Linked DNA regions of Homo sapiens. The protein of the gene in region 2 interacts with the protein of the main gene of each other region in a pairwise test. Each region holds a gene or a part of one and is shown on either strand. Other genes may lie near its edges.

Evidence for each region.
Region 1: the proteins of MOB3C (region 2) and TFCP2 interact in binary tests that used the Homo sapiens proteins (3 or more experiments, as listed by UniProt).
Region 3: the proteins of MOB3C (region 2) and PCYT1A interact in binary tests that used the Homo sapiens proteins (3 or more experiments, as listed by UniProt).

Annotation. Positions count from the first base shown.
Region 1 is NC_000012.12:51,114,123-51,121,150, forward strand, and holds part of TFCP2 (alpha-globin transcription factor CP2), read right to left. Parts: intron 4,651-7,028; coding exon 4,499-4,650; intron 3,626-4,498; coding exon 3,549-3,625; intron 2,299-3,548; coding exon 2,193-2,298; intron 1-2,192.
Region 2 is NC_000001.11:46,607,198-46,613,818, forward strand, and holds the end of MOB3C (MOB kinase activator 3C), read right to left. Parts: intron 6,175-6,621; 5' UTR 6,125-6,174; coding exon 5,707-6,124; intron 3,008-5,706; coding exon 2,805-3,007; intron 2,488-2,804; coding exon 2,458-2,487; 3' UTR 522-2,457; downstream 1-521. UniProt on the Homo sapiens protein: May regulate the activity of kinases.
Region 3 is NC_000003.12:196,242,714-196,249,741, forward strand, and holds part of PCYT1A (choline-phosphate cytidylyltransferase A), read right to left. Parts: intron 5,611-7,028; coding exon 5,494-5,610; intron 4,806-5,493; coding exon 4,654-4,805; intron 1-4,653. UniProt on the Homo sapiens protein: Catalyzes the key rate-limiting step in the CDP-choline pathway for phosphatidylcholine biosynthesis.

The DNA of each region.
Region 1 (7,028 bases), on a different chromosome or scaffold from region 2:
AAAGGATAGTATCAACACAGTAAAAAAGCAACCCACACAATAACAGAAAAGATTTGCATGTGATATATCTGCTATGGGGTTAATATCCAGAATATTTTAAAAATTCTTTCAACTCAATAACAAAAAAAACAAAACAATCCAATTCGATAGTGGGCAAAAGACTTGAACAGACATTTCTCCAAAGAAAATATATAAATGATGGGCCGGGAGCCTTGGCTCACACCTGTAATCCCAGCGCTTTGGGAGGCCAAGGCGGGTGGATCACCTGAGGTCAGGAGTTCAAGACCAGCCTGGCCAACATGGCAAAACCCTGTCTCTACTAAAACACAAAAATTAGCTGGGTGTGGTGGCGGGCACCTGTAATCCCAGCTACTCAGGAGGCTGAGGCAGGAAAATCGCTTGAACCCGGGAGGTGGAAGTTGTAGTAAGCCAAGATCATGCCACTGCACTCCAGCCTGGGCGACAGAGGGAGACTCCATCTCAAAAATAAATAAATAAATAAATAAAAATAAAGAAAGAAAGAAAATATATAAATGGCCAATAAGCACATGCAAAGATGCTTGACATCACTTATCACCAGGGAAATGCAAATCAAAACCACAATGAGATACTACTTCACAACCATCAGGATGGATATTATCAAAAAATAGAAAGCAACAGGCCAGGTGTGGTGGCTCACGCTTGTAATCCCAGCACTTTGGGAGGCCGAGGCGGGCAGATCAAGAGGTCAAGAGATTGAGACTACCCTGGCCAACATGGTGAAACCCCGTCTCTACCAAAAATACAAAAATTAGCTAGGTGTGGTGGTGCATGCCTGTAATCCCAGCTACTTGGAGGCTGAGGCAGGAGAATCACTTGAACCTGGGAGGGAGAGGTTGTGGTGAGTTGATATCGCGCCATTGCACTCCAGCCTGGGCAACAAGAGCGAAACTCCATCTCAGGAAAAAAAAAAAAAGGAAAGCAACAAGTGTTGACAAGGATTGGAGAAATTGGAACCTTTTTTTTTTTTTTTTTTTTGAGAGAGTCTCGCTCTGTCACCCAGGCTGGAGTGCAGTGGCGTGGTCTTGGCTCACTGCAAGCTCCGCCTCCCGGGTTCACACCATTCTCCTGCCTCAGCCTCCTGGGTAGCTGGGACTACAGGCGCCCGCCACCACGCCCAGCTAATTTCTTTGTATTTTGAGTGGAGACGGGGTTTCACCATGTTAGCCAGGATGGTCTCGATTTCCTGACCTCATGTTCTGCCCACCTTGGCCTCCCAAAGTTTTGGGATTACAGGCGTGAGCCATCGCGCCCGGCCGAAATTGGAACCTTTGAGTACCGCTGGTAGAAATGTAAAATGTGTAGTCACTGTGGAAAACAATATAGTGGTTTCTAAAAAAAATCTAAGATAGAGTTACCATATGACCCAGCAATTCCATTTCTGGATATGTATCCAAAAGAATTAAAAGCAGAGACTCAAACACATATTTGTACATCCATGTTCATAGCAGCATTATTCACAATAGCCAGGAAATGGAATCAAATTAAGTGCCTATCATGGGATGAATGGATAAACAAAGTGTGATATATACACACAATGGAGTATTATTCAGCCTTGCATGGGAAGGAAATGCTAATGTATGCTATACCATGAACCTTGAAAACATTATGCTAAGTGAAAAATGCCAGTCACAAAAGGACAAATACTGTATGATTTCATTTATGCAGTACTTAGTAGTCCAATTCATAGAGACAGAAAGGAGAATAGTGGTTACCAGGGGCTGTGAAGAAGGGAGAATGGGGAGTTGTTGTTTAACAGGTACAGACTTCTGGTTTTGCAGATGAGAAAAGTTCTGGAGATGGATGATAGTGATGGTTACACAATAATGTGAATGTACCTAATGTTACTGAACTATCCACTTAAAAATGGTTAAAATGATAACTTTTATGTAATGTATATTTTACCACAACTTAAAAAACAACAAAATCAACCTATAGTTGCTATGGAACTAAAGTGTTTACACTTCCAACTTCAATTTTGATATCATTTTAACTTGTATTACTTAAAATTTTTTATGCTTAGTAAATAATTTCAAGGTTTATACTAATTGAGCCTCTCAAGCATATGAATCAAGGTAAATGTCAAATAAAGAAAACCAACTCTGGGTCCATAGCTAAAGGCATTTCCTAGGCAATAGATTCTCTTAACTCACCTATGTCAAGAATTCTGTCTCCAGGTCGGTTCCACCTCCAGCCCTCTAGCTGCTGATGCTCAGTGTACTGAAGCCTTCTGTCATGGAACACCACACGGAATATACTCTAAAAGGATACAACAAAATCAGATGATAACAAGACCTCTTGAAAATCAGTGCTGACAAAGAAAAACTAGCAGGATTCACTGCCAGTTTGTTTCTAAACGCAATCTAAAATTATTTTTCTTAAGATCTGTTTCACTCTAAAACCCATACCATACTAAGTGCTATTTCAGGATAAAATTTTATAATTTCTCAGATATAATCTTTTTTTTTTTTTTTGAAACAGATTTTGCTCTTGTTGCCCAGGTTGGAGTGCAATGGTGTGATCTCGGCTCACCGCAACCTCCACCTCCCGGGTTCAAGGAATTCTCCTGCCTCAGCCTCCTGAGTAGCTGGGATTACAGGCATGTGCTACCACGCCTGACTAATTTTGTATTTTTTGTAGAGACAGGGTTTCTCCATGTTGGTCAGGCTGGTCTCAAACTCCCAACCTCAGGCGACCCGCCCGCCTCAGCCTCTCAAAGTGCTGGGACTATAGGCGTGAGCCACCGGGTCCAGCCAATTTCTCAGATAGAATCTTTATAGTTAACTGGTACCATATTTAAAACTTGGCTTAAACTTCAGTCCGATGGTAACTAGGAATAAAGTACTCCTGTCTGAAGCGTTTCTGCACACCTCTTCTGTTATACCACGGCCTATCTGGCTTAGCTCTTCAGATGTATATGAAAAACTCACCAACTCCCCCGCTTGCTAACCCACCATACAACCTGTAAACACTGAGGGTAGGTAGAGCCTGTTTCCATCAACTTTCCTTTTGTTACTCTTACTTTGTAGAAGTGCCTATTAATTCCTCCCACCACCTTTTGACAAAACTCCTCTGTTTCAACTGTGCTGTGAATTATCAAAATCCTAACTGTTAATCTAGACTAAGAGAACTGCTCTTCATCAAAGTAGCTTCTGTTTTCCTTGCTATAAGACTAAGTATCAAAAAAGACACTGAGGCTTCTCTAAAGATCTCAAGGAGGTTACTTTACTCCACCCAAAAGAACTTCACTGAGCCAGGGGTGATTACCCTGGACAGGGAGTGGTAAGCGTTCTATTTCTGCAGCTCTGAAAAATTCATGTGAATACTGGGGCTTACTCTGACCCCAAAGAAATAACACATCAGCTTACTACTCTGCCAACAAATTACTGCAGGCAAGAGATACCATTAAGCCATTGGAAGCAAAAGAACATTAACAACAACAACAAAATTTAAAATCCCAAAAGGATTAGTAAAAAATATTGTACAGAAGAATGATTTATTCGTTTTACCTTCACCAATTTGCCATTAATTTCTGGAAGTTCTCCAAGTTTCCTATTGTCTAGCATTCGAATTTCATAAGACTGTCCTAGAAGAAAAAGTAATTACATATTATATTCACCACAAATTAACTTTGCTAGATTCGGAAAGAATAAAATTCAGTTGGTTGAATATACAACAGTATAATAATATTATTAGTATTAGTAACAACAATCAGAAGCCTTTACAAGATGCTCAGCACTGTGCTAAGTATTGTCACATTATCTCATTTAACTGATATACTTTTCTAAGGTATTATCAATCCCATTTTACAGACAAAGAAATTGAAACTTAAAAGAGTTTTAGCAACTTGTCCAAGGCCACACAATTGGTAAATAATAGAGCCAGGTAGAGTAATACTTCTCAGACAGTAACCAATGGGAGTGTCTAGGGAATATGATTAGGAAGAGGAAGCTGGACACTAAAAATGGACAGCTAAGCAAAAGAAGCTAGTAATAGATATCAAGTATGACATTAGAACTCAAATCTCTGAAGTAGGACTTCTAGTTTGATAGGCCACACTAGAAAGATCTAAGTTTTTACATATAAGTGTACCTAATAAAACATCATAAATGGCCGGGCACGGTGGCTCACGCCTGTAATCCCAGCACTTTGGGAGGCCAAGGCAGGCGGATCATGAGGTCAGGAGATCGAGACCATCCTGGCTAACACGATGAAACCCTATCTCTACTAAAAATACAAAAAAATTAGCCGGGTGTGGTGGCGGGTGCCTGTGGTCCCAGCTACTCAGGAGGCTGAGGCAGGAGAATGGTGTGAACCCGGGAGGCAGAGCTTGCAGTGAGCCAAGATGGCGCCACTACACTCCAGCCTGGGTGACGCCGTCTCAAAACAAACAAACAAACAAAAAAATCATAAATACAGTAGGTCTGCAATAGTACTAATGAATGAGGAAGCATCTAACCTTGATTGAGATACGTTAGGGTTTCATCATGGAGTTTCACTGCTGGAGAGGTAGCAGCACAAAGCACATATTGAAAAGGCAGGATTTTATTCTCATTATCAGGAGGCAAACTCGACTCTTCTTGCTTAAAAATGGGCAATGCAAGGACATCACTAAAATAAAACAAATGACTCACATTAATACCTGGCAATGGTGCAAACGCAGGTTTATTGCTGAATGATTTAACTGCAATGCTTTGGAAAGCCATAAACATTACTCACCTTGGTGGAGTTTCATCCCAAGAATTCCATTTAGATTACCTGCTGTGATATCCCCCTGACCACAACAGTGTGGGTGATGACAGATATTCACTGCTAAAACCACTAAGTGTTAAAGAGAATGTTTCTAGGAATCATAGACAGGGGTTCCTAAAAGGACTGTGGAAATTATAAACAGAGTTCTAAAATGTATAAATCTAGGACATTCAGTAACGTCTTCATTCTCAGAAAGGCAACAACTATACTATCTATATAACCATATCAGCTGATTTACTATAAGGACTAAAATAACTTCTACAATTCCTTAGAAGCCACGTGAAAAGGACAAATCAATAACGAGTATATATTTCAAGGTCATCTTACATTCTGTGGAATAACAACTAATATTGAGATGTTCCTACAAGCCATTTCCTCTAAGAAAAAGCTTTTTGTATCTATCAGTTTATCTAAACTTGCAAACCAAAGACACATACCCATCCTTTGTCAGTGGGAATGTAAAACCACACTCTCATCCTTTTGTCAGTAGCAATGTACAATGACATAAAACAGTTTAGGAAAAGGTTTGGCAGTTTTTTATAAAATTAAACATGCAGTCAGGCACAGTGGCTCATGCCTGTAATCCCAGCAATTTGGGAGGCCGAGGTGGGCGGATCACCTGAGGTCCGGAGGTGGAAACCCGCCTGACCAACATGGCGAAACCCTGTCTCTACTAAAAATACAAACCTAGCTGGGAGTGGTGGCGCATGCCTGTAATCCCAGCTACTCAAGAGGCTGAGGCAGGAGAACTGCTTGAACCCGGGAGGTGGAGGTTGTAGTGAGCCGAGATGGTGCCACTGCACTCCAGCCTGGGCAACAAAGGCGAAACTCCATCTCAAAAAAAAAAAATTAATTAAAAAAATTAAATTAAATTAACCATGCATCTATTGACCCAGCAATTCCACCCATTGGTACTTATCCAAGAAAAATGAAAATGTAAGTCCACCCAAGACTTGTTATAAATGTTCACAGCATAAAAGCAAAAACTAGGCCAGGTGCTCACGCCTGTAATCCCAGCACTTCGGGAGGCCGAGGCGGGTGGATCACCTGAGGTCAGGAGTTTGAGACCAGCCTGGCCAACATGGTGAAACCCTGTCTCTACCAAAATTACAAAAATTAGCTGGGTGTGGTGGCGCATGCCTGTGGTCCCAGATACTTGGGAGGCTGAGGCAGGAGAATCACTTGACCTCAGGAGGCAGAGGTGCAGTGAGCCGAGATCGTGGCACTGCACTCCAGCCTGGGCAACAAAGCAAGACTCTGTCTCAAAAAAAAAAAAAAAAAAAAAAAAGAACAACAACAACAACAAAAAAATAAAAACTGGAAAGAACCTAAATGTTCATGAGTAAGAGAACGGATGTACAAACCATGGTATATCCATACAATGGACTACTCAGTGAAACAAAGGAATGCAACACGGATGAATCTCACAGATATAATGCTCGACAAAAAAAGCCGGACACAAAGAATGTGTAATGCATGGTTCTGTTTATATGACAGTCTAAAACAGGCAGAGCCAAAGAGAACAATGGTTTCCTGGTGGGGCAGGGGATGACTTGGAAGGTATATAAGGGAACTTTGTAGGGAGATAAAAATGTATTATACTATGATAGGTCTGCTACGTGGTTGTAACTGTAACAGCTTATTTTTGCATCTCATTGTATATGAATTTTACCTAAAAAAAAAATTATTGATTAGAGGATGGGGAATAGGTAGAAGTAAAAATAATAAAAGAGGGCTAGGTGTGGTGGCTCACGGCTGTAATTCCAGCACTTTGGGAGGCCAAGGCAGGCAGATCACTTGAGGCCAGGAGTTCAAGACCAGCTTGGCCAACATGGTGAAACCCCATCTCTACTATTAATAAAAATACAAAAATTAGATGGGTGTGGAGACACACATCTGTAATCCCAGCTATGTCAGAGGCTGAGGCACGAGAATCACTTGAGCCGAGATTGTGCCACTGCACTCCAGCCTGGGCGACATAGCGAGACTGTGTCTCAAAAAAAAAAAAAAAAAAAAGGTAAAAAGAGTAGTAACATGTTAAAGCAAGGTGATGAGTACAAGAGGGTTCATCATATTATTCTGTTTACTTTGTATATGTTTGAAATTTTCCACAGTAAAGTTTTTTTTAAAAAAGAAAAAATATATATAGGCCACAGAGTACTTCTGGGTACAAAAGAAAAGGAACAGGGTACATGAAATAAAAGAAACAATTAAGATTCCCTTGGCTAGGCACGGTA
Region 2 (6,621 bases):
CGTTTCTACTAAAAATACAAAAAAATTAGCTGGGCGTGGTGGTGGGTGCCTGTAGTCCCAGCTACTCCGGAGGCTGAGGCAGGAGAATGGCATGAACCCAGGAGGCGGAGCTTGCAGTGAGCCAAGATCGCGCCACTGCACTCCAACCTGGGTGACAGAGCAAGACTCCATCTCAAAAAAAAAAAAAAAAAGAAAAAGAAAAAAAAGAATAGCCAATGCCAGGCAACCTGAGATGAAACAAGGAACGATTCCTATCAGACTGAGTTCCCGGAAGGCAAAGAAAAGCCAGGCTTCTCCACCCCAAGCGTCCTAGCCTAGCTCGGTCTAGAATTTCCAGAGCCCCAGGAGAATCTTTGTGTCCCCACCCTAGAGAGCTGGGCCAGACATGACCACACCAGCCAGCCCTCCACATGGTCCAGTATCTCAGGACAAAAAGCCTTCCCAGCCCCATTCTGGCTCAGTTCCTTCCATGGTCTGCCAAGAGCCATGTGGCACCCAGATCACCGCTTCCCACCAGTGGCTGCTTTAGTTTGCCTTTTATTTTACCAAAAATAACAACAATAAAGTCTTCCCTCTGTTTCATAAAAATAAATTTTCCAACCCTCCCCCTATCCCAGAAATCAGCCCTTGCCACAGCCTAGAATCCATCATGCAAGTCACAGCACTCTGGGAAAAGCTCCTACTACCCTCGCTCCACAGCCTCTGGCAAAGCTGCCAGGCCACTCTGGAGGCGGCAGAGGCAGAAGTCCCAGGCCCAGCTGGCTGGGCCCAAGAGCTCCATCTGTTTCCCCAAAGTACAGGCAGCTTCTAGGCCATTGAGTGGGGCATGATATTGGATGCTTGGCTCAGGAAACAACCCCAGCCAACCCAAGGGGCAGTGGGACATGTTGGCCTCAGGTTAGAAATTATTGCTCAAAGCAGAAACAGTTGTGTCCTAGAGAGGGTCTGTTAAACCCTCTTTCCATGTGTATCTCTATGTAGCAATTGATGGGCCCTGCGGTCAGGATCCCTGGTTTCTCCAGCTCCATGAATGCCTCCCTGTGAGGCCCTGGACAGTTTCTCCCTCTTCTTCTCCTGGCTTCAGTTTCCCCGTATGTACATTGAGACAGTAAGACTGGATGATTCTCAGGTTCCCTCTGGCTTTCCATTCTGGCATCCCAGAGTGGAGGCTCTGGGAGGGCAGAACCCTGTTCCTGCCTCAGTTTCCCCACCTGTGGGTCTGCGTATAGGGCTGGGTATGGAGGTACTGAGTAATGGAGTGCTGCGTGAACATCCCAGTCTCCCTGTGGATAGCTGTGCTGTGAGATCCAACTGGCTGGAATGTGTCAGGGATGGCTGGGAAGGAGGCAGGTACTTTTAGGATGGAGGATCTCCATGCCTGGAAGAGTCCATTCACCAACTACATCCTCAATGTGCTGGGATGGGAGACAAGACTCCAAAGTTCCCAATTCAAGTTCCACAAGCTCCTTGGACGGGGAGATTATTTTGTGCTGGGCTTCAGATCCGAGGAGCCAGGTCTGTAGATTCTGGGAGCTAGAGTGGAGTATATGATTCCCAGATGAAGGGCCAGGGGACCTTTGTGTACTTGAGGGATCATCTCCAACCCCCAGGAGGACACGTATAATACAGGCCTTCTTGGAGGCAGAGGGATGAGTAAAATGTCAGCTCATGGGCATCTCTGGGTAAGAGAATCAGAGCCTGTGTCTGCAGTGGGTCGGTTTAGGAACTCAAGGCAAGGCTCCTCTTCCTACGTTCCCCCAGCTCTCCAGGACTCATGCTGATGGAAGAGTGTAGCCTGGAAGGTTTGAATGTAGAGCAACATCTACAACCACATTTTTGTGCACTTACACACATGGTCAGATACACTGAGTGGGGACGCTGAGCTGTCATCACTCCTACAGTGGTCATGGTCTGATGGTCCCATGGTCTGATGGTCCCAATCTATTTATCCATCCATCCAACATTTATGGAAGGCCTACTATGTGCCAAGGAGGGGTAAGGCAGCTAGCTCTCACAGACACACCCCACAGTGAAAATCACACACACACACACACACCCCGGCATCTGTGCTCACTCACAGGCAGACTGCTCACTTTCTTGCACCTTTCTTGCCATCACCTCGGCCACACCCACATTCCTCCAATAGGCTTGGGAACCAGCATGGAAGGGTCAAGTGTCATAGAAGAAACCCCCTAGCCTACCCTACTCCCAGACTTCATGCCAGAGGTTTAACTCCACTTCCCTTCTGTTTGCCTGCCTAGATGCTCTCCCCTTCTCCATCCACAAGCGGTCAGGGCGACAGGTAGGCAGACTCCTGAGAACCAGAAGTCCAGAGGCTTTGGGTGTGTGGAGTGATTCCAGTGCCTTCAGATTCCTTCAGGCTCCTGGGGGTCCCCTCTGCCAGCCACCCTATGTTCAGATCGTCCATCTGATGGCCAAAAAAGTCCAGACCTGGGCTCAGTGGCAGATCCGCTCTGTCATCTCCCTCTGTAGAGACACAAGGTAGGGAGGGGTCAATTAGAGCTCAGCCTACTAGGCAATCCCTTCCCAAACCATAGGGCCTAGCTGCTCTTCTGTCTGAGCCTGGCCTTCCCCCAGCAACCCCAACTCTTAGGCTGCAGATCTGGGTTTGTAAACCAACACTTGAATGAATTCTCTATTGAAGTACAGAATTCACTGTTAAATGAATTGCCTTCCCCTAATTCATCTACTTGGGCGTTGGAGTTACTTAAAGCAGGCAGCTTTTGGACGTGAAAACTCAGAGGCTAGCCTTGGTAGGGGAGGGTGGTAGGGCTTGGCCTCACCAGTGGCTCCAGCTCCCGCTGGTCCACCAGACTGAACTCGCGGATGAAGTAGTAGAAGTGCTTGTAGCAGGTGTTGACGTGCGCCTCTGCCCCCATGCTGAGGATGCTATCGAAGTGGTGGATGTAGACATGGACAAAGACTCGGAAGAGGCGGGTCAGGATCTTGGTGCAGACCTGCTGGAAGTTCTTAGGGAAGGGAACTCCTAGAGGGCAGGGGAGGGCAGAAGGGGATCAGTATCCTGGTGCCAAAGCTCTGCTCAACTTTTCCCTCCCACACACAGGCAACCAGGATGGCTTTTTCCCCAGCACACTTTTTAGTACACTTCCCTTTGGAAAACAGAGAGTGGTTTGACTTTCTCCCATACTTTTCTTTCTTTCTTCCTTTCTTTTTTTCTTTCCTTTTTGAGACGGAGTTTCACTCTTGCCCAGGCAAGTGCAATGGCATGATCTCGGCTCACTGCAACCTCCACCTCCCAGGTTCAAGGTATTCTCCTGCCTCAGCCTCCCAAGTAGCTGGGATTACAGACATGTGCCATCATGCCCAGCTAATTTTGTATTTTTAGTAGAGACAGGGTTTCTCCATGTTGGTCAGGCTGGTCTTGAACTCCTGACCTCAGGTGATCCACCTGCCTCGTCCTCCTAAATGCTGGGATTACAGGCATGAGCCACTGTGCCTGGCCATACTTTTCTTTCTAATGAAGCACAAATCTGACTGTGGCTCTCCCCTGCTGGAATATACATCATCTTCCACATTTTCCCATTACCTAAAGCAGGGCTTTGCAAACTTGTGGGGGTCACTGACCAACCCTTTTTAGACTATGATAAAAGTTACGACCTAAACTCTCCCCAGAAATATGTGCAATTGCAGAGATGCTCACATCACACTCTTGTATACAACTCCAAGGAGAGTTCAACAACTGGGTCCATTTAAAAAATCCCTGGGCCTTCAGGATTAAGTCCTAACTTTCCAGCAGGACGCTGCTCAAGGCCTTTCATGATCTTATCCTGACCTCCCTCTCTAGCCCCACCCCATGTCCCTCCTCTTTTCAACATTCACACAGAAGTCCTCAGACCCCCAATCCTGGAAATTATGAATTCTGCAAGAGTTAGTTCAGACAGCCCTCATTCCTTCAAATATTCAACAACACGAAGAACCTTCCATTTATGAGCAAGGCCTTGTGCTGGGCCCTTCACACCTTTTGCCTCTAATCCTTAGAACAATTCGCCTGATGTGTCTGATTGTCACTTTAGATATGATAAAACAGAAGTGCTTATAAAGGTGAAGCTGCTAGCCCAAGGCCACATAAGTATTAATCAGTGCAGAATGGAGACTGGATTCAGACCCTCTTTGCAGTGCACTGCAGCGACCCTCACAGATATTGGGACCCATGAAAAAGGCCCCGCTTCTGCATAGTCCCCCATGCTCAAGGCAGAGATCTTGGTGGCTTATGCCCTCTTCTCTGTGTGGCAGTCACCCAGGGTTTTAGGCATCGATACCTGGAGTCCCACAGGCCCAGGGAGGTATGGCCAGCAGGGACTATGAATCTACATTCAGGTCCACAGCTGGCCCACCCGGCTCTGTAGACCCCCTCCTCTTCCTCACCATTCCCAGGTGGGGTCGAGCCTTCCCTCCCTCTGAGCCCCTCCAGCCCAGCCCAGATTCCTCAGACATATCCTGCCCATGTAGACTTGGGGTCCTGGGCTCCCACAGATCTGAGCCCCAGTTCGGAATTCCTCCCAGTTCAGTGCACTTTCCCTCAGTAGCCTCAAGTTTCCTCCTATGTAAAATGAAGGTGCTCCTTGTCGGGCATGACAGTGCAAGAAACAGCAGGCCACTGGCTGGGGAGGAGCCGTGGGCATTGAATTGTGACTCAGTGCCCAGCTTCCTTCAGCATTCAGACTTCTCCCCTCAGGGCTTGACCACCCTGCCCCACCCACCGCTGATCCACACAGCCTCTGCAGAGATGAGCTCCAGGCCAGGTGGGGGCTGGGCCCAGCTACAGGTGCGGCTGGTGTGATGAACACAGTGTCATGCCTGCTCAGCTCCTGGACCAACAACCCCCTCCTGCTGCCCTCGGGTGGGTAAGCAGTGCCTGGGTGACATCACTCATCTCCCCTCCCTACCCTCACCCGCCCAGGCTGCCCAGCTGAGATAAGAAAAGGCCCCACAGCCTGTGCCTGGCAAGGGAAAATTCTGTCCTCAGAGCCCCAATCTGAGGTGATGATACCACCAGGGCCCACCCAACCACCAACTCCCTCCTTTTCCTGAGGCCAGGAGTCAGAGGGAACCCCGGGAGGCTGGAGGTCAAATCAGCTATGAACACCTCGGGGCAACTGTTCTGGAAGGTTCTGAGAATCACAGCATCTGTGGTCTTGCCAGAGTGGTCCTTGGTGGGACCACTTATGCTTTAGAAAAGAAAAGCCCTCTGAGGTGGGTGGATCACCTGAGGTCAGGTGTTCGAGATCAGCCTGGCCAATGTGGTGAAACCCTGTCTCTACTAAAAATACAAAAATTAGCCAGGCGTGGTGGTGGGTGCCTATAATCCCAGCTACTCAGAAGGCTGAGGCAGGAGAATCGCTTGAACCCGGGGGGCAGAGGTTGCAGTAAGCTGAGATCTCACCACTGGGTGAAAGACCGAAACTCTGTCTCAGAAAAGAAAAAAAAAAAAAAAGAAAGAAAGAAAGAAAAAGAAAAGAAAGAAAAGCCCCAAATTGGGAGTCAGGAAGTCCTAGCAAATGCTTGACCTTGAGCAAGGCACTTAACCTGTTTCAACCTCGCTTTCCTCTTCCACAAAATGGGGATGAAAATCAACCCCCAACCCTGCAGAGTGTCTATATCAAACTAAATCCTCATCTGTGGAATGGGCTCCCAGTGGCTCCCTCCCCGCCAGGTGACACTCACCAACACGCGTGGGAAAGACCTCTTCGTCGTTGATGAGGCCTTCGATCCAGTCCATGAGCAATGCCATATAGCGCGGCGCAGAGAGCTTGGCGGGCCGCCGGTACTGGCGCTCGTCCTGCCAGCGGTACTCGTAGCGGGGCCCGCCGGCCATGACCGGGCAGCTGGTCTCACTGCAGCGCTCCGCCATAGTGCCGTAGATGAGGTTGATGCGGTTGAAGAAGTCCACCACGTGCACGGCGATCCAGTCGTCGATGTTCTCCCCGGGTGGTAGCCTCACCACACTGCGCAGGTCCAGGCCCGACTTGAGAGAGGCCTGTGCCTTCTTGTACAGCTCAAAGCGCTGTGTGCCCGGCTCAAAGCGCTTCCGCGGCCGGAACGTCTTGTCCTTGGCGAACACCTGCTTCAGGCACAGGGCCATGGCCAGCTGGGCCTGGGGCTGCTGTCCAGGGGCTCGGACCTGAGGATACCCTGCCAGGGACAAGGGCATAGGGGAGCTGGCGGTCAAGGCCTTATCATCTGGGCTCTGACTTCCCAATTCATCATTTCCCTGTCACCTCTCAGCCTTTGCTCAACCTCTGCATCCTCTGCCTGGAATCTAAGTCCTCAGCCCCTAGGTCCAGTGCCCCGCCCTCTTTCCAGGCTATGTTAGTCCCCCTTGCTAAGCCCCCACAGTCCTCCCATCTTGCTTTGTCTCTTTTCTGCTTTCATTGCAGAGCTGGGCCTGGGCTCTAAACAGGTGCCCCTCAGACTTGCTGTTGGTCACGAGAGAGGTCGCAGAGGCTCCCTGCAGGCCCACCAGCAGACAGGGGCTTGGACGAGATGACCTCTGGGAGCCCCCTTGGCCAGCTGGTGCAACGTGGGAGAGCCTCGCAGCATTGTGCTGGGGGCAGGGTGGAGGGGGGTCGGGGGTGGCTT
Region 3 (7,028 bases), on a different chromosome or scaffold from region 2:
CAGAAAAAGGACAATAGGCAGAGGCCAGGCCTCAGTGGACTTCATATCTCTCTTTGCTTTGCTCATAAATTCTACAATCTATTCACAAACCACCCAACCTAATGATTTATGGAGTATACATATGAAGTTAGCCAGCTGCTTTTGTAGCTATTTCTCCTAGTCTGCTAGAACTGTTACCCTCACTCTGTATACCAGTCATCTTGCTGTGGTCAATAGGGCCAGAGGGTTTGCTGGTGAACCGGTTAGTGGGTGGAGCCTAGGAAAGAAGGAAATCTCCCTGTCCTGGGTCTGGAAGGATTTGGTCAAATAAGGGTTTCTAAAAGTATGAGAAAGGCCAGGCACGGTGGCTCATGCCTGTAATCCCAGCACTTTGGGAGGCCAAGGCGGGCAGATCACGAGGTCAGGAGTTCAAGACTAACGTGGCTAACATGGTGAAACCCCGTCTCTACTAAAAATACAAAAAAATTAGCCAGGCATGGTGGCGGGCGCTTGTAGTCCCAGCTACTTGGGAGGCTGAGGCAGGAGAATTGCTTGAACCCAGGAGGCAGAGGCTACAGTGAGCCAAAATCGCACCACTGCACTCCAGCCTGGGTGACAAAGCAAGACTCTGTCTCAAAAAAAAAAAAAGTATGAGAAAGAGGTTACTTCTTTCTTAACTAGTTTCTCTCAGTCCGTGAGAAAAGAGGGAATATAAAAATAGCAACCACGAGCCCTCTGACTGGAATAGATACATCTATTGGCCTGAGAAATACAAACCGAAGGCCATAAGAGAAGTTTTCTCCCTCTCCCCTCTCCCTTCTCCCCTCTCCCCTCTCCCTCTCCCCACGGTCTCCCTCTCCCTCTCTTTCTATGGTCTCCCTCTGATGCCGAGCGGAAGCTGGACTGTACTGCCGCCATCTCTGCTCACTGCAACCTCCCTGCCTGATTCTCCTGCCTCAGCCTGCCCAGTGCCTGCCATTGCAGGCGCACGCCGCCACGCCTGACTGGTTTTCGTATTTTTTTGGTGGAGACAGGGTTTTGCTGTGTTGGCCGGGCTGGTCTCCAGCTCCTAACCGCGAGTGATCCGCCAGCCTCGGCCTCCCGAGGTGCCGGGATTGCAGACGGAGTCTCGTTCACTCAGTGCTCAATGCTGCCCAGGCTGGAGTGCAGTGGCGTGATCTCGGCTCGCTACAACCTCCACCTCCCAGCCGCCTGCCTTGGCCTCCCAAAGTGCTGAGACTGCAGCCTCTGCCCGGCCGCCACCCCGTCTGGGAAGTGAGGAGCGTCTCTGCCTGGCCGCCCATCGTCTGGGATGTGAGGAGCCCCTCTGCCCGGCCGCCCAGTCTGGGAAGTGAGGAGCGCCTCTTCCCGGCCGCCCATCGTCTGAGATGTGGGGAGCGCCTCTGCCCCGCCGCCCCATCTGGGATGTGAGGAGCGCCTCTGCCAGGCCACGACCCCGTCTGGGAACTGAGGAGTGTCTCTGCCCGACCGCCACCCAGTCTTGGAGGTGAGGAGCGCCTCTGCCCGGCCACGACCCCGTCTGGGATGTGAGGAGCGTCTCTGCCTGGCCGCCCATCGTCTGGGATGTGAGGAGCCCCTCTGCCCGGCTGCCCAGTCTGGGAAGTGAGGAGCGCCTCCTCCCCGCCGCCATCCCGTCTAGGAAGTGAGGAGCGTCTCTGCCCGGCCGCCCATCGTCTGAGATGTGGGGAGCGCCACTGCCCCGCCGCCCCGTTTGGGATGTGAGGAGCTCCTCTGCCCGGCCGCGACCCGGTCTGGGAAGTGAGGAGCGTCTCCGCCCGGCAGCCACCCCGTCCGGGAGGTGAGGGGCGCCTCTGCCCGGCCGCCCCTACTGGGAGGTGAGGAGCCCCTCTGCCCGGCCACCACCCCGTCTGGGAGGTGTACCCAACAGCTCATTGAGAACGGGCCATGATGACGATGGCGGTTTTGTCGAATAGAAAAGGGGGAAATGTGGGGAAAAGATAGAAAAATCAGATTGTTGCTGTGTCTGTGTAGAAAGAAGTAGACATGGGAGACTCAATTTTGTTCTGTACTAAGAAAAATTCTTCTGCCTTGGGATCCTGTTGATCTGTGACCTTACCCCCAACCCTGTGCTCTCTGAAACATGTGCTGTGTCCACTCAGGGTTAAATGGATTAAGGGCGGTGCAAGATGTGCTTTGTTAAACAGATGCTTGAAGGCAGCATGCTCGTTAAGAGTCATCACCACTCCCTAATCTCAAGTACCCAGGGACACAAACACTGCAGAAGGCCGCAGGGCCCTCTGCCTAGGAAAACCAGAGACCTTTGTTCACTTGTTTATCTGCTGACCTTCCGTCCACTATTGTCCTATGACCCTGCCAAATCCCCCTCTGCGAGAAACACCCAAGAATGATCAATAAAAATACATAAATAAATAAAAGAAGTTTTATCCTCAGGATCTATCATTTCACTACTTTTTTTTTTTTTTTTGAGACCGAGTCTCGCTCTGTCGCCCAGGCTGGAGTGTAGTGGCACAGTCTCGGCTCACTGAAACCTCTGCCTCCTGGATTCAAGCGATTCTCCTGCCTCAGCCTCCCGAGTAGCTGGGACTACAGGCGCATGTCACCCCGCCTGGTTAATCTTTGCATTTTTAGTAGACAGGGTTTCACCGTGTTGGCCAGGCTGGTCACGAACTCCTGACCTCAAGTGATCCACCTGACTTGGCCTCCCAAAGTGCTGGGATTACAGGCGTGAGCCACAGCGCCTGGCCATTTTACTGCTATGAATATCCTTTGCAAGGGCAAGAAGAGATGAATGATACTGGGGATCAATAATGTTGTTCGGAGGCGTGCTAAACTTCACTTACTCCTTCCTGTATGGGCCACCAGCCTTTTGCTGATAATTACTAAGATCACTATACCATCCCCGAGAGACCACTGTAGTGTGAAGCATGTTCATTGGGACTATGTCAGAGACTCTCAGCCAGCATCTCAATTACTCATGAACAACTTGTCAGGGATCCATAGGCAGCAAAGTAAAGAATAGGAGGCCGGGTGGATCACCTGAGGTCAGGAGTTCAAGACCAGCCTGGCCAAAACGGCGAAACACTGCCTCTACTAAAAATACAAGAAATTAGCCGGGCATGGTGGCGCGCACCTGTAATCCCAGCTACTCGGGAGGCTGAGGCAGGCGAATCACTTGAACCCGGGAGGCGGAGGTTGCGGTGATCCGAGATCACGCCATTGCACTCCAGCCTGGGCAACAGAGCAAAACTCTGTCTCAAAAAAAAAAAAAAAAAGAATGGGACAAGCAAAACTCAAGGTTGAGTATATATTGTTAACAAAGAGAAAAGGGGAGTTAGAAATTCCTCTAACTTCATACTTCTGTCTGGGCCTGTGGGCTGTGGTGCTGAGAATAAACTTGCTTACCACCTTTGGTGCCACTGGCTGCTAGGTGTTGATGTAGAAAAGCCAGAGAATTATAAAAGGTCTGTCCTAATCCTCAATAGTTTTAATAAATATCCCCTCTTCAGGCCTACCCACGTATTGCTTTAGAAGCACTTTGGCTGCCTTCATTCTTTCTGCCTCACTGAACAATTTACCTACAACATTCCACGCGCCCCTGTAGAGAACTGACAACATGCTTGCTATTTCCTCAGGCTTGGGGGCCTCTAACCTGGCCTAATCAATCCTTCTCATCTTTTGTACCCACCTTTTGCAGGAAACCTGTGGCTTTTTTTTTTTTAAAGTAGAGACAGGGTCTCGGTATGTTGCCCAGGCTGGTCTTGAGCTCCTGGGCTCAAGCGATCCTCCCACCTTGGCCTCCCAAAGTGCTTGGATTACAGGCGTGAGCCACTGCACCTGGCTGAAATCTGTTACTTTAATGTGGGAGAATTAAAAGGAGGTAAGGGGTTGATAATAACTTACTGAGAAACAGTGAGAAATATCCTTGATTTCTGATTCCACCCAATTTCTAGCATAAGATCAAAGCCCTGAAATGAAACTTAAGCCAAGAAAAGTCTATGTTAATCCGTCTTATTTCCTGGTAATGTGACCGTCTTCAGAGTTCACCTGGGGCTATGGATATTCTCAGGAGACTGGCATGTTCTAAGGGTAGATGTGCCTATGGTGTGGGGGGAAGGTCTCGTAACTGGTGAGTTCAGTTCCCAGCCCTGCCAGTGGTGTAACTTGTGGCGAGTTCAGTTCCCAGCCCTGCCAGTGGTGTAATTTGTGGCGAGTTCAGTTCCCAGCCCTGCCAGTGGTGTAACTTGTGGCGAGTTCAGTTCCCAGCCCTGCCAGTGGTGTAACTTGTGGCGAGTTCAGTTCCCAGCCCTGCCAGTGGTGTAACTTGTGGCGAGTTCAGTTCCCAGCCCTGCCAATGGTGTAACTTGGAGCAGGTTATTTGGTTTCTCTAGCCCTTGTTACTCATATGTAAAGCGGAAATGACAAACACACCACAGGATTGCTGTGGGCAGAAAATGGAATAGAATGGATGTAAAAGTGCTTGCAAACCATCCAGCCCCATATAAACGTCAGGGGTGACTGTTATCACTAGTAATATCACTGTCATCTCCTACGAAACTTACATAAGAGGTAGAAGTAAAACACGGCTAGTGGAAAACCAGCCTACGTGCCAGCAGCTTTGAGAGTTGAGGGGATTCTGAAACAAGGAATGGGAATATGTGTCCAGTTTCTTACCCGGTGTTCGGCCAGGAACTCGGGTGTCAGCGTCCAGGGCGCATTCCTCACCACCTCATCCACGTAGCGGCAGTGCTGGACTGCGTCATAGCGCTCATTCTCGTTCATCACCGTGAAGCCTTTGAAGTTGTGTGTGAGCTCATCACTGCAAACTGGTTCACCACATCATAAATTGTGTGTTGGAGTCCTCTTTGCTTAGCACCTCCTCAGCCACCGACCTCTCCCATCTTCTCCCACTGCTTAGGACTGCAACCATCTTCCCCAACTGGAAAAAAGTCTTCTAAAGGTGGTTGAACCTGGGTGATAACGCTTTTCCTAATGCAGCGTATACCTTCAGGAGCAACACTCACTAAACAGTATGTTCATACTTTGGAGAAGGGACAGTACAACAGGTGACCAAGATCTTTGACTCTGAAATAAACCTGCTGTGCGTGTCTGCATCAATTAAGTCCTTAAACATGTTTTCCTGTTTTATTCACACTGGACTGGACCACCTAACATTTCCTTGGCAGACTTTTGTACTCCAGTTAATTCAAAATGATAAACTGAAATCTAAAGCAAATGTTTTAAAGTGGACAACGGAAGTCACGGCTGCTCCTGTGACCACAGAAACTCAGCTACAAGCAGTGAATAAATGCCAGATGGCACAGTCGAGGAGCTTGAAGCTCCTCTCTCCAGGTTTAGTTTGCTGGTACCCATATACTTCATGTGTGTTAGAGAGGCTGTACTACATCCTTCATTTAAAAATGGAAACAAGAGCCAGTGTACTCAGCTGAGAAAGACAGACTGTACTATCATCTTTTTCTGCACAGCACCTGAAGTCACCAAATGTTTTCTTACCTCCCACAATGAGGTACGTATTAGGGAAAAGGTTCTTCGCTTGCATCAGAGCTCGGGCGTGACCAGAGTGAAATAAGTCAAATATTCCATCGGCATAAACTCTCACAGGTCGCTCACCTAAATCCAAATGAAAGAATTGATCACAAAAATACCTTTTTTTTTGTCATTTTTATTTTTATTTTTGAGGCCGAGTCTCACTCTGTCACCCAGGCTGGAGTGCAGTGGCGTGATCTCGGCTCACTGCAACTTCCGCCTCCTGGGTTCAAGTGATTCTCCTGCCTCAGCCTCCCAAGCAGCTGGGATTACAGGTGCATGTCATCACGCCTGCCTAATTTTTGTGTTTTTAGTAGAGATGGGGTTTTTCCTTGTTGGCCAGGCTGGTCTCGAATTCCTGGTCTCAAATGACCCGCCAGCCTCAGCCTCCCAAAGTGCTGGGATTACAGGTGTGAACCACCATGCCAAGCCACAAAAATACATTGATTCGATATCTTGTACTTGGCAAATGGAACTGGCTCTGTGTGACAGTTCCATGACTGTATACTCCTTTCTTTTTTTTTATTTTTTTCTTGAGACGGAATCTCGCTCCATCACCCAGACTGGAGTGCAGTGGCACGATCTCGGCTCACTACAACCTGCAACTCCCGGATTCAAGCGACTCTCCTGCCTCCGCCTCCTGAGTAGCTGGAACTACAGGCGCCCACCACCAAGCCCAGCTAATTTTTTGTATTATTTTTTAGTAGAGATGGGGTTTCACAGTGTTAGACAGGATGGTCTCGATCTCCTGACCTCGTGATCCACCCGCCTAAGCCTCCCAAAGTGCTGGGATTACAGGTGTGAGCAACCGCGCCCGGCCCAACTGCATACTCCTTTCTTTAGGTGTTCTCTGGGTATTCACCCTGATTTTAGGGGTAGGTTGGGTTATGAAAAATGACTATAAAGACCTTTTCATTTTTTTTTTGAGACAGGGTCTCACTCTGTCATCCAGCCTGGAGTGCACTGATGTGGTCACAGCTCACGGCAGCCTTGACCTCCTGGGCTCAAGTGATCCTCCCATCTCAGCCTCCCAAGTAGATGGGACCACAGATGGACACCACCATGCCCAGCTAATTTTTTTTTTTTTTTTTTGTAGAGACCATGTTGCCCAGGCTGGTCTCGAACTCCTGGACTCAAGCAATCCCACCTTGGCCTCCCAAAATGCTGGGATTCCAGGTGTGAGCCACCATGCTCAGCCTATAAAGAGATTTTTGACATCATCATCTGCACTAACTGCCTCTGTTAGCCTGGTTGTACCAAACTTTTCAGGCACAACAAATAACAGAGAACTGTCAACTTAGAAGCCAGGAAATGATTTCCCGGGGAACAAGACTAATTCCAAAGTGAAATAAACATTAAAAACAGAATCAGCATAATGGTCCATCATGCTTTAAATAATAAATCTAAGGAGTCCATGTAACTTATTCCCTTTCTGTGAATAAAGGAAGAGCTATTTTACTGCAGCAGAAACTGACAGGAGCATTTACATCATTTGGGAAAGA